Linked DNA regions of Homo sapiens. The protein of the gene in region 2 interacts with the protein of the main gene of each other region in a pairwise test. Each region holds a gene or a part of one and is shown on either strand. Other genes may lie near its edges.

What was found.
Region 1: the proteins of LARP4 (region 2) and BHLHE40 interact in binary tests that used the Homo sapiens proteins (3 or more experiments, as listed by UniProt).
Region 3: the proteins of LARP4 (region 2) and CRX interact in binary tests that used the Homo sapiens proteins (3 or more experiments, as listed by UniProt).

The regions. Positions count from the first base shown.
Region 1 is NC_000003.12:4,975,206-4,982,451, reverse strand, and holds the start of BHLHE40 (class E basic helix-loop-helix protein 40), read right to left. Parts: upstream 3,016-7,246; 5' UTR 2,734-3,015; coding exon 2,654-2,733; exon of another isoform or gene 2,491-2,653; coding exon 2,421-2,490; intron 2,152-2,420; coding exon 2,044-2,151; intron 1,061-2,043; coding exon 937-1,060; intron 1-936. UniProt on the Homo sapiens protein: Transcriptional repressor involved in the regulation of the circadian rhythm by negatively regulating the activity of the clock genes and clock-controlled genes.
Region 2 is NC_000012.12:50,452,879-50,459,907, reverse strand, and holds part of LARP4 (la-related protein 4), read right to left. Parts: intron 6,449-7,029; coding exon 6,236-6,448; intron 5,595-6,235; coding exon 5,491-5,594; coding exon of another isoform or gene 5,487-5,490; exon of another isoform or gene 3,480-5,486; intron 3,338-3,479; exon of another isoform or gene 3,122-3,337; intron 1-3,121. UniProt on the Homo sapiens protein: RNA binding protein that binds to the poly-A tract of mRNA molecules. Associates with the 40S ribosomal subunit and with polysomes. Plays a role in the regulation of mRNA translation.
Region 3 is NC_000019.10:47,838,923-47,843,839, forward strand, and holds the end of CRX (cone-rod homeobox protein), read left to right. Parts: intron 1-397; coding exon 398-1,045; 3' UTR 1,046-4,402; downstream 4,403-4,917. UniProt on the Homo sapiens protein: Transcription factor that binds and transactivates the sequence 5'-TAATC[CA]-3' which is found upstream of several photoreceptor-specific genes, including the opsin genes.

The DNA.
Region 1 (7,246 bases), on a different chromosome or scaffold from region 2:
AACATTGCACCGTGGCAAAATGGGCAGAGGCTGGATAGTTATAAAATGAGGAAAAGAATGAAGAAACAACAATCACCTAAAGTAAACTTATTTTCAATGATTTGTAAAAGTTGCAGTCATGCTGTGACCTTTAATTAGGCTATTTCTATGTCTTCTCCACATATTCTATCCATGATCCTCAAGACATTAGGTATGACCATCTTCCTATTTTGAATGAGGAAACAGGCAGAAGCACTAGCTGGGTTTTTGCAATTTTCATCATACGAGCCTTCGAGAGGAAGGCAGACAAGCATGAAATGAGGGAGTGGGTAGAATAATTCTCCCCAGTCTGTACAGTATTATTTGGAAGAAGTGAGACTAGAAGGTTAGAAGGTTGACTCCGATTATCTGGAAGTCAGTAGAAACGAATGATGAAACTTCAGTGGTTTCGCTAGATTGTGCAATTCACCAAGATACCTAGTGGCTATTCAGGGAACCACATGAAATGCAGGAAAAACTCCTGCTGTATCCTGCCAGGATCACACCACACACCAAGTGACAAGGAAGCAAAGAAACAGGAAAACGCTGGGGCATACCCATGATTTCTTCTCCAATGAAAGAGGGCTAAGAAGACCAACTGTAAAACACCCACAATGCAAATTATAGGTGCCTTGGCATTTTAAAAGGGAGTAGGGAAATCTCCCAGAACCCAGAGACTCTCAAGCTAAAATGCCACAGGAATATCTTATCATTTCACTAATACGTATTCATGCCAGGTGGCACAATGCATTTCAAATGAAAAGTCTGACCTTTTAGGAAAGATAAAACTGCATCTCCCCCAATGAACGTGCATAAGCAATTTGTTGCAGTAATGTTTATTACATCAGATGTTGAGCCCACGGGCTCTCTATTTGCACTCAAACTCTTAAAGAGAGCATAGCCAGAATCAGCACTCACCAGCTTGTAAACCACTCTGCAGGGCAATGATTTTCTGCTGCTGCTGATCAATTAGGTTTGTTAGTGCTTTCACATGCTTCAAGGTAAGTTCAAGAACCACTGCTTTTTCCAAGTGACCCAAAGTCTGGAAGGAAAAGAGCCTTAGTCAGCGGTGAGGTCAGAGAAGTCCCACCTTTGGGACATTTATTAGCAATGAGAAATGAGAAAAGAAAAAAAAAAGTGGAATAGTGTTTCCTGGTTGGCTGTTTTAAGTCTGTAGGTCATGCTTTTAAAAAGATAGACAGATACACTCATATATGTGTGTGTGTGTGTGTGTGTGTGTGTGTGTGTATATATATATAATATATATATATAATTAAATAATTTAAAAAAACGGGTGCCACCTGTCTTTGGAGGCATTTTGGAAGCTGCAACTACCTCAGGAAAATCCTTTGACAGATAAATTTCTCCAGCAGCCTCTGCCGACCTTAACTCAGGGGAATCCAGAGATAACATTTTCCTGCAGTGGTGTCAACTCAGAGAGGGACCTCTATTACGTCTGGCAGCCAAGAGGCTTTCCCTACTTCTTTCCTTACACCCTTTCAGAACTTCCAGCTCATCCAGGCTTTTTTGTTCCTCCCGAAATACTATTTTTTTTTTTTCCATTTCCCCAACCAAAGGCTGCGAAGTAGCCGAGGGCTACTGTCAAGAAAGGACAGGCCGTAAAAATCACACACCAAAGCAAGTCCCCTTATTTGACAACAACAACAAAAAAGGTGGGGGGAGTGGTAGAGGGGAAGGGGTAAATAAAATGTGTGTGTTTCTTGGCGTGTTCCTTTAAGTGAGAAAAACTAGGGAATCCTGAAAATCACCAGAAGTTAAACTCCTGAAAAGGAAGGCCAGTTGGTGTTGGAGCCAACTTGGAGAGGTCCAAGTGGTTCTCGCCTCATTTGCATGAGTCAGCCAGAAAACGCCAGGACTGTGGAGGAGGACCCCACCGCAGAGCCACCCGCCAGCTCTGATCCGCCAGTCTGGTCTGCAGTTCCCCGCGGAACCTGCAGGCGGCGAGTGACCCGCCCGCCCTCTGGGCAAAGGACTGGGTTGGAAAGGGGCCAGCTTCTCACTTACTGTAAGTTTGAGATGTTCGGGTAGGAGATCCTTCAGCTGGGCGATGCACTCGTTAATCCGGTCACGTCTCTTTTTCTCGATGAGCCGGTGCGGCAATTTGTAGGTCTCCTGCAAGACGCACGGGGAGGCGGTGGGCGCTTGGGGAAGGAGATGAGAAGCCTATCCTCCCAGCCCCGCAGCAACAGTCCGGCAGAGGAGCAGAGTAGCAGAGTAGCACCCAGAACCATCGTCTGCCCTTTCTTTTCCAAGTCACTCAGAAGAGGCACCGAGCCCACACCCTGCATCCCCTCGCCAACCTCAAAGCGAGAAAACTTTTCTTGGAAACTCAGCGCGCGCGAGGGGCTGAGCGCAGGGTCCCTAGGGGTGCACTTGCTTACCTTGCTGTCCTCGCTCCGCTTTATTCCCCGTCTTGACTTGTACACTTGGTACATGTGGGCAGGGTACATCCTGCAGGAAGAGAGACCAGGAAGGGTCGTGACTGCTTGCGCACGGCTGCAGGCGTTCTGCCGGGCAAGAACCTCCCGGTGCGCCCGGAGCTGCTCCAAGTTGAGAGTGGCGCATAACATGGGGCTGCAGTTGAGGCTTGAAGGGCCAAGGAGTGCCAACTTACCCTGGTAGGTCTCCGTGCTCCAGTCCCGGTGCTTTGGGCAGGCAGGCGGGGGGTGGTTGCGCGCTGGGGATCCGCTCCATGGCGCGGCGAGCCGGGGCCACTGCGCGCTCCTGTCTGCACTAGCGGAGCGTCTGGATGAGGACTGCCCTGGAGAGGGCTTCGGGGGTCTCTCCGCAGATGTTCCTCTGAGTCTGAGCTCTTTGAAATCCCCTGGGCTGCTGGAATCTTCGGCTTTGAGATGCAGCTTCAGTTGGGGGCGTGCATGGCCCGGTGTCCCCGCGGCCTCTGGCTCCGACTCAGCGCACAGACTGGCGGTGTGTGCTCCCTGCGCGGTCTGTCTGCGCCGTGCGAGCCAAGTGAATGAGAAGTGGGGCGGGCGGGGAGGCGGGAGGGAGCGGGTGAGGGGGGGGCGGTTAGGGCGGAGTGGGGGGGTGGGGGGGCAAGCCGAGGAGTAATGGAGAGGCTGCGGGCTGGGTTAAATGGGAGCGAGTGGGTGGGTTGGAGCTACGTGTTCTACCCTGTGACTCCAGGCACGTCTGGCCACTGCCGGGGAGGGAAGGAGCGACCTGCCCGCCCTCCCCCGGCTTCATCACATGAGTCTCACGTGTTGGACAACGCTCCGGCGGCTGCTAGGGAGCCCCCACCCCCAGCCCCGGCCCCCAGGTGTCTGCGGCTGCGGCCGCCTTTCCCCGAAGAGGGGGTGGCAGCACGACCTGGGTCCTGCCCAGTTGGGTGGGGGGCGCGGAAGCTGGAAGGGACGGGGGTGCTGGGGGAGGGGGAGAAGTTGGTAACGTGGGCGAACCTGCCCCAGGGAAATGAAGTAAGTTCCCGTCTCCTGGGAGGGAACGGGGGAGGACGGATCCGCCCGCGTCTGACTCAAGCCGGGAGAGGAATATCCCCTTGCTAGCTCCAGCCCAGCCCTCTTCCTCCTCCCCCGCCCGGCCCGCTTGGAGGAACCGGCGCGCTGCGGAGGGAGTCGCCCGGCCCCCCAGCCTTCCCCAGAGGCTGGGGTTTCTTTCCGTCCTGGCTTCCCTGCCCCCACTGCTCACCCTCGCGTCCAGGAATTGCCCGCCTTGGGGAGGGACCGAGGGGCGGGGCGGATGTCACCCCATGGGAAGCGGGCCGACGGCCAAGCGCAGGGGCAGCTGAGGCTGCCGCCGAGCACGCCGCGCGCACCTGACCGTGGAGGGTGTGAGCCGAGGGCCCCTCGCTCCCAGGAGCTCCGCTCCTGGGCACAACCTGCGGGCGGGCGGGCACCCGGTTGCGCAGCCCCCTGGGTGCCCCAGTGTCACCCCCTTCCTCCCGGCCAGTCAAGCGCAGAAAGATACCGGGCGCTGTGCCCGGCGCTCCCTCCCTCCTCTGCCCCCTCCGGAGCAGAGGCGCCCCGGTCGCCTCCCCTCCGGCTGCAGCGTTACACAACCGCGGCGGCGGCGCCTGCCCTGCAGCAGCGCAGGGCGTGACGCTTCACGTGGCCGGGCTCAGGTCGTAGCACCGCGGACCGCGAGCCTCTCTGCGTTGACCCAGGGACTGAGACCCCGGGGACGTGGCGTGCCAGCCCGGATCGGCCCTCTCCCTGCCTGTTGGGAAGTTCGGCGGCGCTGTTCGCGGTCTGCACCCAGGGCAGGAGGGATGAGAGAGACAAGAAAAAAAAACCGCCTGTTACAGGGAAATCTTAGCAATCATGCGGTCGACACGTATTTCTTGAGCCCCCTGCTCTGCACTAGGCGCTGCACTAGTTGATGAATCCGACACGGATCCTGCCCTTGAACTTGCAGAACCTCTAGGAAGAGGTTAAATTGAGCAATAAAGGAAAGGCAGCCCTGGGAAAATTGTATCGAGGCCACTGGCTGACAGAGGGGAAAAACAATGAGAACTTGTGTTGCTTTGTGTTTTGTTTTTAATTTCATTGTAACCGAGATGCCTAGGTAGAGAAGCGGGGGAGAAGCTAACCCAAAGCCCCAAGCCCGGGGCGGAAGGACCTCCTCCAGCGGCCCCAGATCTCTGCAATCTCACTTAGGCTGCCGGAGGGCCCCACCCACCTCCCCCGGAAAGGTCCGGGCTCTGTGACCTTCTCACTCAGCCGGGAGCAGGGAAAACAGCTGAAACTCCAATCCCGCGGTGTGAGCAGCGCTGATACAGTCAGAGGAGGGAGCCAGTGGAAACTCATGACTAAAATAAGGCCTGGCTGGGGATTTCACTGACCTCTGCGCTCCCCTGCCCTGCAAGTTCGGGGAGTTGAGAGATGACTGTAAGCCCTTCCCACTGCGCTTCGGGTCAGTCACCCCACTGCTGAGTGACCTGGCTGTGGGAAGGATTGAAAAAAAAATGGGGTCACTGCCGAGACTGGGCGAAGAGTAGTAGCCTCGGGTGCAGTTAGGGGATCAGTCTTAACTGGCAGTGCCCTTGACGACCTAGAGAACTGGCATTCACAAGTTGACCAAACTGGCAGTGTATTTCCTTCAGGTCGCCTTGGAGAGCTCCCGCTTCCTGTTTATATTTCACAAGCGTCAAACTCTTTAGCAAGTGTGAGAAATGCCTCCTTTTCTAACTGCTAACTGGCATGACCTCACTTCGGGGCTCAGAGATCCCTCCCTGCCAGAATGTACTTTTGCTGGCCAAAGGCGGGGACCGGGGTCCGCCCTGGAAACGCGCTTTCAATCTTGGGCGACCTGCTTCATTGTGTGATTTTAATAAGGATGAAGGGCTGTCACGGCTGCGTCAAAACCACGGTTCCAGCAGGAAATAAGCACTGGGAGAGGACAGGACACGTACCCCCTTCCGCCGACACCCCCCACCCGATGGCAGGAGGGAGCCCAAACCTTGCAGCTTCCATGGCTCATGGCTCATGACAATATCATTCTTAAAATTCTTTGAGTTTATCAATACGTTTTGCCCTTACCTGCCCTACAACTGTAAATAACAAAATGTATGCATTTCCTACTTTTTATTTGTTCCGAATGTATTCTCAAGCTTCAAGAACGGTTCCCATCCTACCAGACTTCCACCGTATCAGGATTAAAAAACAAAACAAAACTCTGTTATTCTCTCCATAGCTTATGGCTTTTAAAAAATAATAATTTGAACAAACAATTCCTACGTGGCATAGATCTTTCCATCCTGGAGAATGTTACTATTTCAGTCTGTCATCTTTTGTAGATATTAAAAACCTTTCGTATGTCAATTTCTTTGCTCCTCACCACCACCTTTTAGGCAGGTACTAGTATTAGCTCGATGCATTTGACACGTGTTTATTGTTATTCAATGCCAGACACTGAAATAGGCCCTAGGGATGTATAACATATTCTGTTTGGAAAATTGAGGCTCAAGGAGGCTAAATAACCTGCCCCAGGTTATATAGTCTGGGATTCAGTCTGAGACAGGCCCCCAGGTTTGTTGGACTCCAAAGCTTGTGCTCTTAATCACTATACTTACGGTTGCCTGGTAGGGTTGTTTGGGTTGTGCACCGCTCAACTCCAGGGGGAGCTATTCACATTGCAGTCTGTGTGAGAGCACCCTCTGGAGTTGTGCAATGTGGCACTGAGCAGCTGCACTGGGTAATCCTGCCATTTTGTAGCCGTCCCTGCTGTTTTGTCTCTTCTAAGTGGGGAGAGAACATAATTTCGTACAAGAGAAAGATGGGATCTTTCTCTTCTTTCCTATTGGGACTCAGCATCTTGGTGGCCTTACACTGTGTGCTGAATGAGTCTATACTGTTACTATCTATAGTAACTCCCGGGCCCTTCCTGTGCAAGAATTTAGAGCCCCAAGCTCCCCTATACATCCCCACAACTTGCTTGCTCAGATATCACTTTTTACCTGCTTATGAAGCCTCAAAAATTTTTATCTCAGCTCACGGTAAGAAATACATTTTACATCATGTCTCAATACACACACGTATGTCTTTACACACATCTTAAGTATATTTAAGCATAGGGCAGCCAAAGCTTGGTTGGGCTATAGCAATAAGTGACCGCTACCCTCTCTCCTATACTCCTGAGTAACCATTGCTCTCTTAAAAAAGAAAAAAGAAAAAATTGAGCCACTTAGAAAGAAGTCAATCAGGCCGAGTGTGGTGGCTCATGCCTGTAATCCCAGCACTTTGGGAGGCCAAGGCGGGCGGATCGTCTGAGGTCAGGAGTTCGAGACCAGTCTGGCCAACATGGTAAAACCCCAGCTTTACTAAAAATACCAAAAATCAGCCGGACATAGTGACGGGCACCTGTTATCCCAGCTACTTAGGAGGCTGAGATAGGAGAACTGCTTGAACCCAAGAGGCAGAGGTTGTAGTGAGTGAGCCGAGATCACACCATTGCACTCCACCTTGGGCAACAAGAGCAAAACTCCGTCTCAGGAAAAAAAAAAAAAAAAAAAAAGTCAATCCAATGCATTTCAGACAAAAATTTCACAGAACAATATTTCACTGTTATTATATACATTCTGATACTTTCCAGTTTAGTCTCATCTGTTTTATTAAAAGTATTCAGGTCATGACTTACTAAGTTGATCTCACCACTCACCAATGGATCATGACCTGAAATTTAAAAACTTGCCTGTGGGGCACAGTGGCTCACGCCTGTAATCCTAGCACTTTGG
Region 2 (7,029 bases):
CTTGGCCTCCCAAAGTGTCGGGATTACAGGCATGAGCCATCACACCTGGCCTATAACACCCTTTTTTTTTTTTTTTTTTTTTTTTGATACGGAGTCTTGCTCTGTCGCCAGGCTGGAGTGCAATGGCGCGATCTCAGGTCACTGCAACCTCCGCCTCCCGGGTTCAAGAGATTCTCCTGCCTCAGCCTCCCGAGTAGCTGGGACTATAGGCACGTGCCACCACACCTAGATAATTTTTGTATTTTTAGTAGAGATGGGGTTTCACCATGTTGGCCACGATGGTCTCGATCTCCTGACCTGGTGATCTGCTCACCTCGGCCTCCCAGAGTGCTGGGATTACAGGTGTGAGCCACCAGGCCCAGCTATGCATTCTTAATGGAAGCAAAACCACGCTAATGGGAGTAAAAACGGGGGCGAAGGAAGGGCAAAAAGTAATCATTTTATGTATAAAGCACAGATACATACATTACATACATACAGACATACAATAATCTGTAGTAGTAAATTTTCACAGGCAGAAACTAGGAGGAAAATGCCTAAAAAGGCTGTTTAGGGGAGTAATAATGAAGAGAGTAAGAAATATTGGAATATAATTAAAATCCTAGCCTCAGCCGGGCATGGTGGCTCACGCCTGTAATCCCAGAACTTTGGGAAGTGGAGACGGGCAGATCACCTGAGGTCAGGAGTTCTAGACCAGCCTGGCTAACATGGTGAATCCCCATCTCTACTAAAAATACAAAAATTAGCCTGGCATGGTGGCAAACACCTGTAATCCCAGCTATTCAGGAGGCTGAGGCAGGAGAATCTCTTGAACCCAGGAGGTGGAGTTTGCAGGGAGCCAAGATCACACCATTGCACTCCAGCCTGGGCAACAAAAACAAAACTCCGTCTCAAAAAACAAAACAAACAAAACCTAGCATCTTACTAAACATCCATCACCAAATGAGATTTATCAAAAGATCCATATGTAGGACAGCAAACTAGGAAAATACCAATGCACCCAATAGCATGGCATGACTGCATGAATTAAGGTATGCAATGTGGTTAAACCAACCAATCTGCTTTTAACAAAGGGAGTTTTTATCTTGGATGATGGGTATAAGCACCCAACTTCCTAAAAGCTTACAACAGATGAAGCTAAGGTTGACTAATATAAAAAGAATGTAGTTTAATCAGTAGCAAAAACACCTAAAATCTCAAGCAACTGAGGATCTTGGATCTACAGATTAAGAAGAGTGAGATTTATGTTTGGCCCATTATTTGCAGTTTATATATCTCAGTTTTTGTAATCTATTTTCATAGTTATAAACCAACAATATAAATCACATGTTGCCAATTCCTGACTCTAGGAATAAGGATTTAAAACCTCTTGAATAATTATAACCCCACCAATTAAACGTAAATTCCCACAGCATCTCTAGTTGTCCTGTTTTATTCTTTACAGACCATAAAAAATTACCATTATTAAAACTTAAAGTAGCTGGGTGTGGTGGCTCACACCTGTAATCCCAGCACTTTGGGAGGCCAAGGCGGGTGCATCACGAGGTCAAGAGATCAAGACCACCCTGGCCAACATGGTGAAACCCTCTGTCTCTAACTAAAAATACAAAAACAAACAAAAAACAAAAACAAACAAACAAAAACAAAGATAAAATTATCAGGCTGGGCGCAGTGGGCTCAGTGGCTCATATCTGTAACCCCAGCACTTTAAGAGGCTGAGGTGGGAGGATCATTGGAGCCCAGGAGTTTGAGACCAGCCTGCACAACATGGCAAAACCCTGTCTTTACAAAAAAAAAAATACAAAAACTTAGCTAGGCATGGTGGTATGCGCCTGTAGTCCCAGCTACTAGGAAGGCTGAGGTGGAGAATTGATTGGGCCTGGGAGGTCAAAACTACAGTGAGCCATGATCATGTTACTGCACTACAGCCTGGGTGACAGGGCAAAACACTGTCTTAAAAAAAAAAAAAAAAGTTGGGTTGAGTTTCACATAAAGTGACACTTTGCCATAGAATTACTTTATATTACAAACTAGATTTCTTAAATAGCAATGAAAATAGTATGTCACTTAACAAAAAGTAATTTTTTTTTTTTTTGAGAAAGGTCTGGCTGTGTCACCCAGGCTGGAGCGAGGTGGTGCGATCTCAGCTCATTACAACCTCTGCCTCCTGGGCTCAAGCTATCCTCCCACCTCAGTCTCCCAAGTAGCAGGGACTACAGGTGCACACCAGTATGCCTGGCTAATTTTTATATTGTCAGTAGAGACGAGGTTTCACTCTGTTGCCTAGGTTGGTCTCCAACTCATGAGATCAAGTGATCTGCCTGCCTTGGCTTCTCAATGTGTGGGGAATATAGGCATGAGCCACCCCACTGGCTATAAAAAGTAATTTTAAAAATAGTTAGGCCAGATGCGGTGGCTCACACCTATAATGCCAGCACTCTGGGAGGCCAAGGCGGGTAGATCACCTGAGGTCAGGAGTTCGAGACCAGCCTGGCCAACATGGTGAAACCCAGTTTCTACTAAAATACAAAAAATTAGCTGGGCGTGGTGGCATGCGTCTGTAATCTCAGCTAATTGGAAGGCTAAGGCAGGAGTATCGCTTGAACCCGGGAGACGGACGTTGCAGTGAGCCGAGATCCCGCCATTGCACTCCAGCCTGGACAACAAGAGCAAAACTCCGTCTTTAAAAAAAAAAAAAAAAAAAAAGGCCGGGTATGGTGGCTCATGCCTGTAATCCCAGGACTTTGGGAGGCCAAGCTGGGTGGATCACGAGGTCAAGAGATTGAGACCATCCTGGCCAACATGATGAAACCCCGTCTCTACTAAAAATACAACAATTAGCTAGCACATGCCTGTAGTCCCAGCTACTCAGAAGGCTGAGGCCAGAGAATTGCTTGAACTCGGGAAGCAGAGGTTGCAGTAAGCAGAGACTGCACCACTACACTACAGCCCGGTGACAGAGCACGACTCCGTCTCAAAAAAAAAAATTTATATTACCTGTTACATCTTGAAAATGAACTGATATGATAGATATGGTATTTGCATATGTTTAGAAAATGTCCTTCATCCAACTTTCACACTACATTTCAATATGCTTAAGGGACAACTTACTACATTTATACAGCCCTCAGATCTCATAATCTTACCCTTCACTGAGAGGGACTTAACAATCTCGATCCAGGCAAAAGAGAGAAAGAATGAAGAAAGAAAGAAGTGATAAAAGACAGAAAAGAGAAGTAAAGTGAAAGAAAGATAGTATGAAAGGTAGAAAAATGCCTGGATTTCTGAAAGTTAGTCCTATTCTCTCTAAGTAGGAATAGTGATCATCACTGGGCTGTCACAGGTTAATATAAAAATTGCAAAAGGCTCTCTAAAAAAGACTTTGTCCTTAGCTGTTAACATTAATAATAATAATAAATGCCTGGCAGTAGTCACTTTTTAGAAGTAGTCACTTTTTAGAAGCAAGAAGGAAACAAGGATTTGGGTTGCTGGTCCAGAAGGTCTTTATTTGCATTTTTAGAAAAAGTATTCACTAATTATTTCTGTAATTAAAAATTACCAACCTGTATTGGTCAAATATATGGAAAAGAACTGTACACAAGTGGTTTTAAGTAACATGCAAAAATGTACTAAACACACCATGTATTTTCAAAACCATAGGTATACTTCCTTATAAGTAAAGATAACTTGACTGTCATTCCTGGCTGTCACCAAAAAGATGCAACGGATAAAAGGTAACAATAAAGAAATAACCATGGAGCCAAGTAAAGTATTTCAGAGTCAAGCAACTGCAAATATCAGTACCTTTATTTTTTGGAGGGGGGAGCGGGGAGGGGTGAGAGGGCGTGGCTGCAGGGAATAACAGAGTCTCACCGTCACCCAGGCTGGAGTGCAGTGGTATGATCTCGGCTCACTGCAACCTGTGCTTCTCAGGCTCAAGCAATTCTCGTTCCTCAGCCTCCTGAGTAGTTGGGACTTCAGGCATGCACTACACCACCACGCCCAGCTAATTTTTGTATTTTTGGTAGAGATGATGTTTCGTCATATTGCCCAGGCTGCTCTTGAACTCCTGAGCTCAGATGATCCACCCACCTCAGCCTGTGTTTATGTTTAGTAGTAAAATTTTTCTAACACTTGAAAATGATCTTCAATTGCTTTAACCAATTGTGTCTGTCAAGAATAGTCCAAAAACTCTGACTATTAAAGAGTAGTACACAATGTTTCCAGTGAGAAGAATATTTTTTCATTCTGTTGGGGCTCATTTCTCCAGTAAAACAAGTTTCAGAAAAACCTGTCAAAAAAGGACTAAGTTCCTAGAAGTCATCTTGGAAAAACATACTCCAGATGGTCTCCTTTCCAAAAGAAATAATTAGAAGAATCGAATCTGGCAAAAGACTGTCACTGAAAATAAACCATTAGGAAAAACCCTCAAAAACCAAGAGTCTCACAAAACAGCAAACGAGAAGTAATAAATGTGAAACTATTAAATAAATCGAAATGACTATATGTCAGTCCTTTATTCTTTGGTTACTCATACTGTGTTAAAAGCCATAGTATCACGCCTGTAATCCTAGCAATTTGGGAGGCCAAGGTGGGAGGACTGCTTTGAGCCCAGGAGTTCAAGACCAGTCGTCCCAGGCAACATAAACAGACCCTGTCTCTACCCCCACAACAACAACAACAACAAGCCATAACATACACCAAATATTGAGATTATCTGTTGATGTCTACATAAAGAAAAATACCTCAGACATACATCTCAATCTTTATGATAGCATATAGTTTCTATGATTCTTAATAATTTATCCTGAACATAGTGCTTTAAGTGCGGGCTTTGGAGTTGAACTGCCTAGGTTCAAATCTTAGCTCTACCAATTACTAGCTGTGTGTTCTCAGACATGATATTTTACATCTCAGATTCCTTATCTGTAAAGTAGACATAAGTGCACCTATAAAGGGTTCTGAAAAAAGTAACTGATAAAATATGTAAAGCCCTTAGGAACAGAGTTTGTGATATTAAATGTGCAATAAATGTTAGCTACTGTCTGTTGTGCACTGTAGTTCTTGGGTGTCATTTCAAAAATCCTTTAAAAACCTGAATAACATACATCCCAACATTTATTACACAATTCAGTTAACAACATTTATATCTTCAAAGAATTCATTCTCTAAAATGCTACCCATTTAACATACTAAATGGAAATTAGTCACCAGATTTGTCAGAGACTGGTGTCATGAAATATTTTTTCTATTCTCTTTTATTATTAAAAAAAATCTGAATCCCAAGTCTGTTACATGCATTACCAACTCAAAGGTCAAAGTGTTTTTACGAATTCTAGATTAAACTGTTCATATACACTTAGTAAAAACAAAACAAACAAAAAATCCACCAAACCTTATTACTGAGCCTGACAACAAACATTGCTATTAATGCCTTAAGATCCATTAGGAATTGTTTAAAATACATTACAGCTATGGTTTTTATCTTACCGATTTTTTTGGAATGGTCGACCCATATTCATAGCAGCAGCATTTGTTTTATAAGATCCTGGCGAATTAAAGCCATTCACAAAACTACCATTGGGAAAGGGAGCCTAGAAAAAAATGTATGTTTAAACAATATTAATGGCAAAGGTAAAATCTGGTGTGAGGGTCACAAGAACCTTAATGAGCTTATGAATTTATCTTTTACAAGCCAAAAATATCTTAAAATATTTTACTGATTCATTTCTGCAATATTCACTTCAAGTACCACTGGATTTATGAACAATTCATAACTTAGTAAAGAATGTCTGGTCTGACATTTCGCAACACTAAAATGCATTTAAAATCACGCAAAAGTTATCCAGTCTCTTCTTTCAATTCACTCAGCAAATTTTATGGAATAAAATTATGCGCTCTAATAGCTCACCTCTTAGTCATATGCATTTATTTGGTATGGAGAATTAGATATCCATATCACTGTTTAAAAGCCAAAAAGTGGCCGGGCATAGTGGCTTGTAATCCTAGCATTTTGGGAGGCTGAGGCGGGTGGACTGCCTGAGCACAGGAGTTCGAGACCAGCCTGGGCAACATGGCAAAATTCCATCTCTACGAAAAATACAAAAAATAAAATAAAATAAAGGCCAAAAAGTCATCAATGTCAACATAAATGAGCTCCCACTCCAACTGATTTCTTCAAATTTCAGCTCAAATTAAAAATATTATTATATTTTATTGTAAGGATCTCACTTACCAGTGGTGTTTCAAAGTAAGGTGTAGGATTTGGAGACCAAGACTGAGGCACAATACTATAGACCGAGTACTGTTGGTGAGGATTATATACAGGCTGCATAAAGACTGGGGAGGCATACTGTGCTTGAGTTTGAATGGGGTGACTATAGATACTAGAATCCATTAATCGATAACCATTCTTAGCAAAAAATGTATTGATGGCTTTTATCCTTGCCTAGAAGAGGAACACATTATAGCAACAAAGAATTAAGTGTATATTTTAAAAAATACATTTAATTTACATTTTAACATATATTTTACATGACTATACTATTTCTGCCTACAGTAGAATCAGTAGAGCAAAAGAAAAGAAAATGACAGCTTTAATTAATTAATAAATAATAAAAACGTTTTCATGGTATAAAAACCATAGTAAACAAGGTAAAACCCCCCCCGCCACACACAAACACACGTCAAAATAACCAGGTGTGCTGGCTCACACCTGTAACCTGAGCACTTTCAGAGGTCAAGGGGGTAGGATCGCATGAGCCCAGGAGTTCGAGGCCACCCTGGGTACCACAGTGAGACCCATCCCTTACAAGGAAAAAAAAAAAAAAAAAGCTGGGCATGGTGGCATGCAACCTGTAGTCCTAGCTGCTTGGGAGGCAGAGTGGGGAGGACTGCTTGAGCCAAGGAGCTGGAGGCTGCTGTGAGCTATGATCGCACTACCACACTCCAGCCTGGGCAACAGAGCGAGACCCTGTCTCTAAACAACAACAACAAGCAGAGTAAAAACCTCCCAAAAAACTAAGTCAA
Region 3 (4,917 bases), on a different chromosome or scaffold from region 2:
TGGTGTATATATGTATAACTGTACGTGTGCATGTTTGTATTAGATGGGTGGATGAATATGTGTATGATGTATGTATGATCATATCGATGGGTAAATGCAGGCATGATGTATGTGCGTATGGTGTATGCATGTATAATTGTACGTGTGCATGTTTGCATTAGACGGATGGGATGAATGCACATGGGTATGATGTATGCATGTGTTCATGCACACATGCAGGTATGATTGGATGGATAGATGGATGGATGGGTGAATAGACGCCCCACAGCTGGATGCAAAGTAGACAGATGTGAACCCAGCACCTCTCACCAATAAGTGTCCTCATCCCCGGGCACCCTGCGGCTCTCCTGGGCCTCTTCCCCACTTACCCACCCCCATCTCCGCTCTTATCCCCCAGGTTTGGTTCAAGAACCGGAGGGCTAAATGCAGGCAGCAGCGACAGCAGCAGAAACAGCAGCAGCAGCCCCCAGGGGGCCAGGCCAAGGCCCGGCCTGCCAAGAGGAAGGCGGGCACGTCCCCAAGACCCTCCACAGATGTGTGTCCAGACCCTCTGGGCATCTCAGATTCCTACAGTCCCCCTCTGCCCGGCCCCTCAGGCTCCCCAACCACGGCAGTGGCCACTGTGTCCATCTGGAGCCCAGCCTCAGAGTCCCCTTTGCCTGAGGCGCAGCGGGCTGGGCTGGTGGCCTCAGGGCCGTCTCTGACCTCCGCCCCCTATGCCATGACCTACGCCCCGGCCTCCGCTTTCTGCTCTTCCCCCTCCGCCTATGGGTCTCCGAGCTCCTATTTCAGCGGCCTAGACCCCTACCTTTCTCCCATGGTGCCCCAGCTAGGGGGCCCGGCTCTTAGCCCCCTCTCTGGCCCCTCCGTGGGACCTTCCCTGGCCCAGTCCCCCACCTCCCTATCAGGCCAGAGCTATGGCGCCTACAGCCCCGTGGATAGCTTGGAATTCAAGGACCCCACGGGCACCTGGAAATTCACCTACAATCCCATGGACCCTCTGGACTACAAGGATCAGAGTGCCTGGAAGTTTCAGATCTTGTAGAGGACGCAGTCTCCATCTCTCTCCATCGGGCCTCGGGACCCTTTCTCTTCTGAATCTGCTTCCCTGCAGTTTAGATCCCGGGATGGCATTCCTGAGAAAGCAACCCGAACCAGCTGTCCTTCTGACAGCTCGGTGTTCAGCTTACAGAGACCACCCCTTTCCTCCACAGGGAGAGGCTCCTCCCTCTCCTGGGACAGCTCACAGGTCCTAGTGATTCTCTCAACCCTAACACCGTCTGGCACGATTGTGACCGCTGAAGTACACCACGAGCTCCAGGCTTCAGAAAGTGGTGCTGAGAACTTGCTCCAAGAAGAAGTCAAACCAAACTTGCAGTTGATTTGGGGTCATGTTTAGGTCAGAATCACCGTGCCCTTGAACAAGCAGGTAGGGGGGCTTGATAACTTAACTTTCCACGTGGACAGAATTTTTTTTTTTGTTTTGTTTTTGTTTTGCAGACACAGTCTAGCTCTGTCGCCCAGGCTGGAGTGCAGTGGCACGATCTCAGCTCACTGCAAGCTCTACCTCCCGGGTTCACGCCATTCTCCTGCCTCAGCCTCCCGAGTAGCTGGGACTACAGATGCCCACCACCAGGCCCGGCTAATTTTTTTTGTATTTTTAGTAGAGACGGGGTTTCACCGTGTTAGCCAGGATGGTCTCGATCTCCTGACCTCGTGATCCGCCCGCCTCGGCCTCCCAAAGTGCTAGGATTACAGGCGTGAGCCACCGCGCCCGGCCCTTTTTTTTTTTTTTTTTTTTAATTGAGACGGAGTCTCACTCTTTTGCTTAGGCTGGAGTGCAGTGGTGTGATCTCAGCTCACTGACTGCAACCTCCACCTCCCGGGTTGAAGCGTTGCTCCTGCCTCAATCTCCCAATTAGCTGGGATTACAGGTGTGCTCCATCATGCCCGGCTAATTTTTCTATTATTAGTAGAGACAGGGTTTTACCATGTTGGCCAGGCTGGTCTGGAACCCCTGACCTCAAGTGATCCGCCTGCCTCGGCCTCCCAAAGTGCTGGGATTACAGGCATGAGCCATTGTGCCTGGCCCTACACGTGGACACTTCTTTAGCATATGGTTAGGGACCTTTCTAGAAATTCCAAAGACAGACTTTAAGAAGCCCCGTCGGGAAACCTTAGGCCAATGATGTGGTTACATTAAAAATAAATTATCTGGGAATTTCACAGACTTCACAAATGTCAGGCTTACATGGTAGGTTTAGGGGACCGTTTGAGAGACAAAGATCTACATTCATATATGTAGCTATACATATATGTACTTTTTCTTCTTAGTTTCTTTTTAAAGACATTTTATCACTCATTCGCTCATTAGCACATTGGGAATGTGTGTATTTGGTAGGGAAATGAAAGGCACCTTGCCTGTTCCATCTCTACTCCTTTTTTCTTTTGTTTTAGGATTTTCTAAAGGTGAGACACTGGTGGAACTGGGGTAGCTGCTTGGGACGTACCACCTATAGTTGTGGCTATTTCACAGAGAAGCAGCAGCTAGACAGACTCCCATCTGTAAATAAACAAGAGATAGGAAGAGGGGGAAATAGATTTGGAGGAGGCAGCCCTACATTTCAAACATACATTCCCTTTTTTAGATTTTTTTTTTTTTTTTTTTGGTTTTCAGTTTTGATGGTGGGATTGGAAAATAGAGCTTGGCTTGAGGACATTTTCCTGGGGTGGCACCATTATTTCTTGAAATAGAATCTTACTTATGGTGACACTGGCAAGCACTTGTGAGAACCTGAAGACGGATTGAGGTCATTTGATGCTCAGAAGTTGGGTGCTGGGTCCCTGCCTTCTCAGTCCGAGTTCTCCTTTCATTTTTGGGTGGGGAGGCGGGTTCCAAGAGCCCTTCATTGGTGGAGTTCACAAGGCAAGGTGTAAAAAAAAAAGTAGGGCAGGAAGACAGTGGTGTGCTGGCAGAGGTCTAACAATGGGCTCTCCAAGGAAGAGGAAAAGGTTGGTTGTGGAGTGTTTGTCAGTTTCCGTGGTGTAAATACTCCCACCACGGCTGACTTCAAGCTAGCAACCGGAGGTCACTGAACTAAGAGTTGGGAAGAGATAGGGCACAATATATGCTTACGAGTTGGTACACACCGTCAGCAGCAGCCAGGGTCAGGAGAAAGGCGAGATGTGAAGAGAGGCCGGGAGGTATCAGATGACGTTTCCAGCACTAGACCAGAAGAGGTGCACACAGCCTAGACCCCCTGAGGGGTACACCCTGATCTCTAGAGCCCACAAAGAGGTTTTTATTCAACATAAAACGTGTTCATCTCTCATAGGCCTGAGTCATGCTGGGTTCTGGGACATTAAGCCCAGGAGTGGGCCGGGTGCGGTGGCTCACGCCTGTAATCCCAGCACTTTGGGAGGCCGAGGCGGGTGGATCACCTGAGGTCAGGAGTTCGAGACCAGCCTGGCCAACATGGTGAAACCCTGTCTCTACTAATAATACAAAAATTAGCCGGGCATGGTGGCACGCGCCTGTAATCCCAGCTACTCGGGAGGCTGAGGCAGGAGAATTGCTGGAACCCGGGAGGCGGAGGTTGAAGAGAGCAGAGATTGTGCCACTGTGCTCTAGCCTGGGTCACAAGAGCGAAACTCCGTCTCAATAATAACAACAACAAAAATAACCCAGGAGTGGCTCAAGAGTCCAGTGTGGGATGAAAATATAAACAGAGGAAGACAACATATGTCACTGGGGAGGCTGGGGGAGCTAGACAAAATTCACACGGGAGGGGCAGGGATGAGACAATATTGTGCCCTGGGTCTGTGCAAACGTTGGGACCAGAATCCACTATAAGTTTCATTCTTCGGAGACACGGAAGCTCTGCACTGGAGGCCGGGACTCAGGCGTGGAAGAGAATCTTCTCCTTATTCACCGGGGAGGCTGTGTCTTGTGCAAACAAGTCATAGAAACTTGATGGGAGTTGGGGAGGGACTGAAGGATGCATGCAAGGTTCTGGGAAGGAGTGAGAAGTAGTGAAGGCCAAGGGGCCCCCATCACAGGCCGATGGGGTAAGACTTCGAGAGAGCCTGATCCTGGGGTCTTCTGAGACTCCACCAGGAGCCGGAGAGGGCAGGGAGCCAAATCCAGCTAGGAGGTTACAGATTGCTTTTCCTGGGCTGGGCTCCTGAGTGTTGGTTCTTCCAGCTGTGCACAGGGGATTTCAAACGTTCTACGTCCTAAAGCCAGGAAGAGTGACAAGGCAGGTGGGGACAGAAGGAAGAAGCCAGGAGCCTCCCTGAGAAGGTGTCACCTTATCTGTCCTCCTCTTCCCCACACACTGGCCTCTGGGTCCCCCTTCTCTGTCCACCCACAGAGTGAAACCAATTAAAATGTTGGATCTCATTTAAAGTCTGGGTGATTCTTTAGTTTCCGTGTTTTCTCCAGGAGGGGCAGGTAGAAACAGGAACTACTCTGTTCCTTCTGTCTGTGGGGCCTGGGTCCCTCCATGTGTTTCCTGTCTCATCACCCTCCTTTCCTTGACATCTCTCTAAAGCCAATTTATGAAGGATCAGGGGCTGGGTGCAGTGGCTCACGCATGTAATCCAGTGCTCTGAGAAGCTGAGGAGGGAAGATTGATTAAGGCCAGGAGTTTGAGACCAGCCCAGGCAACATAGCGAGATCTCTGTCTCTACAAAAAATTAAAAAAATCAACCGGGTGTGGTGATGTGTGCCTGTGGTCCCAGCTACTCGGGAGGCTGAGATGAGAGGATCGGTTGAGCCCAGGAGTTTGAGGCTGCAGGGAGCTATGATTGCACCACTGCACTCCAGCCTGGGTGATGCAACAAGAGACCCTGTCTCCAAAAACAAAAAATAAAAAAAAAAAAAAAAGAAGGAGGAGGAGGAACAGGGGTCCCCAG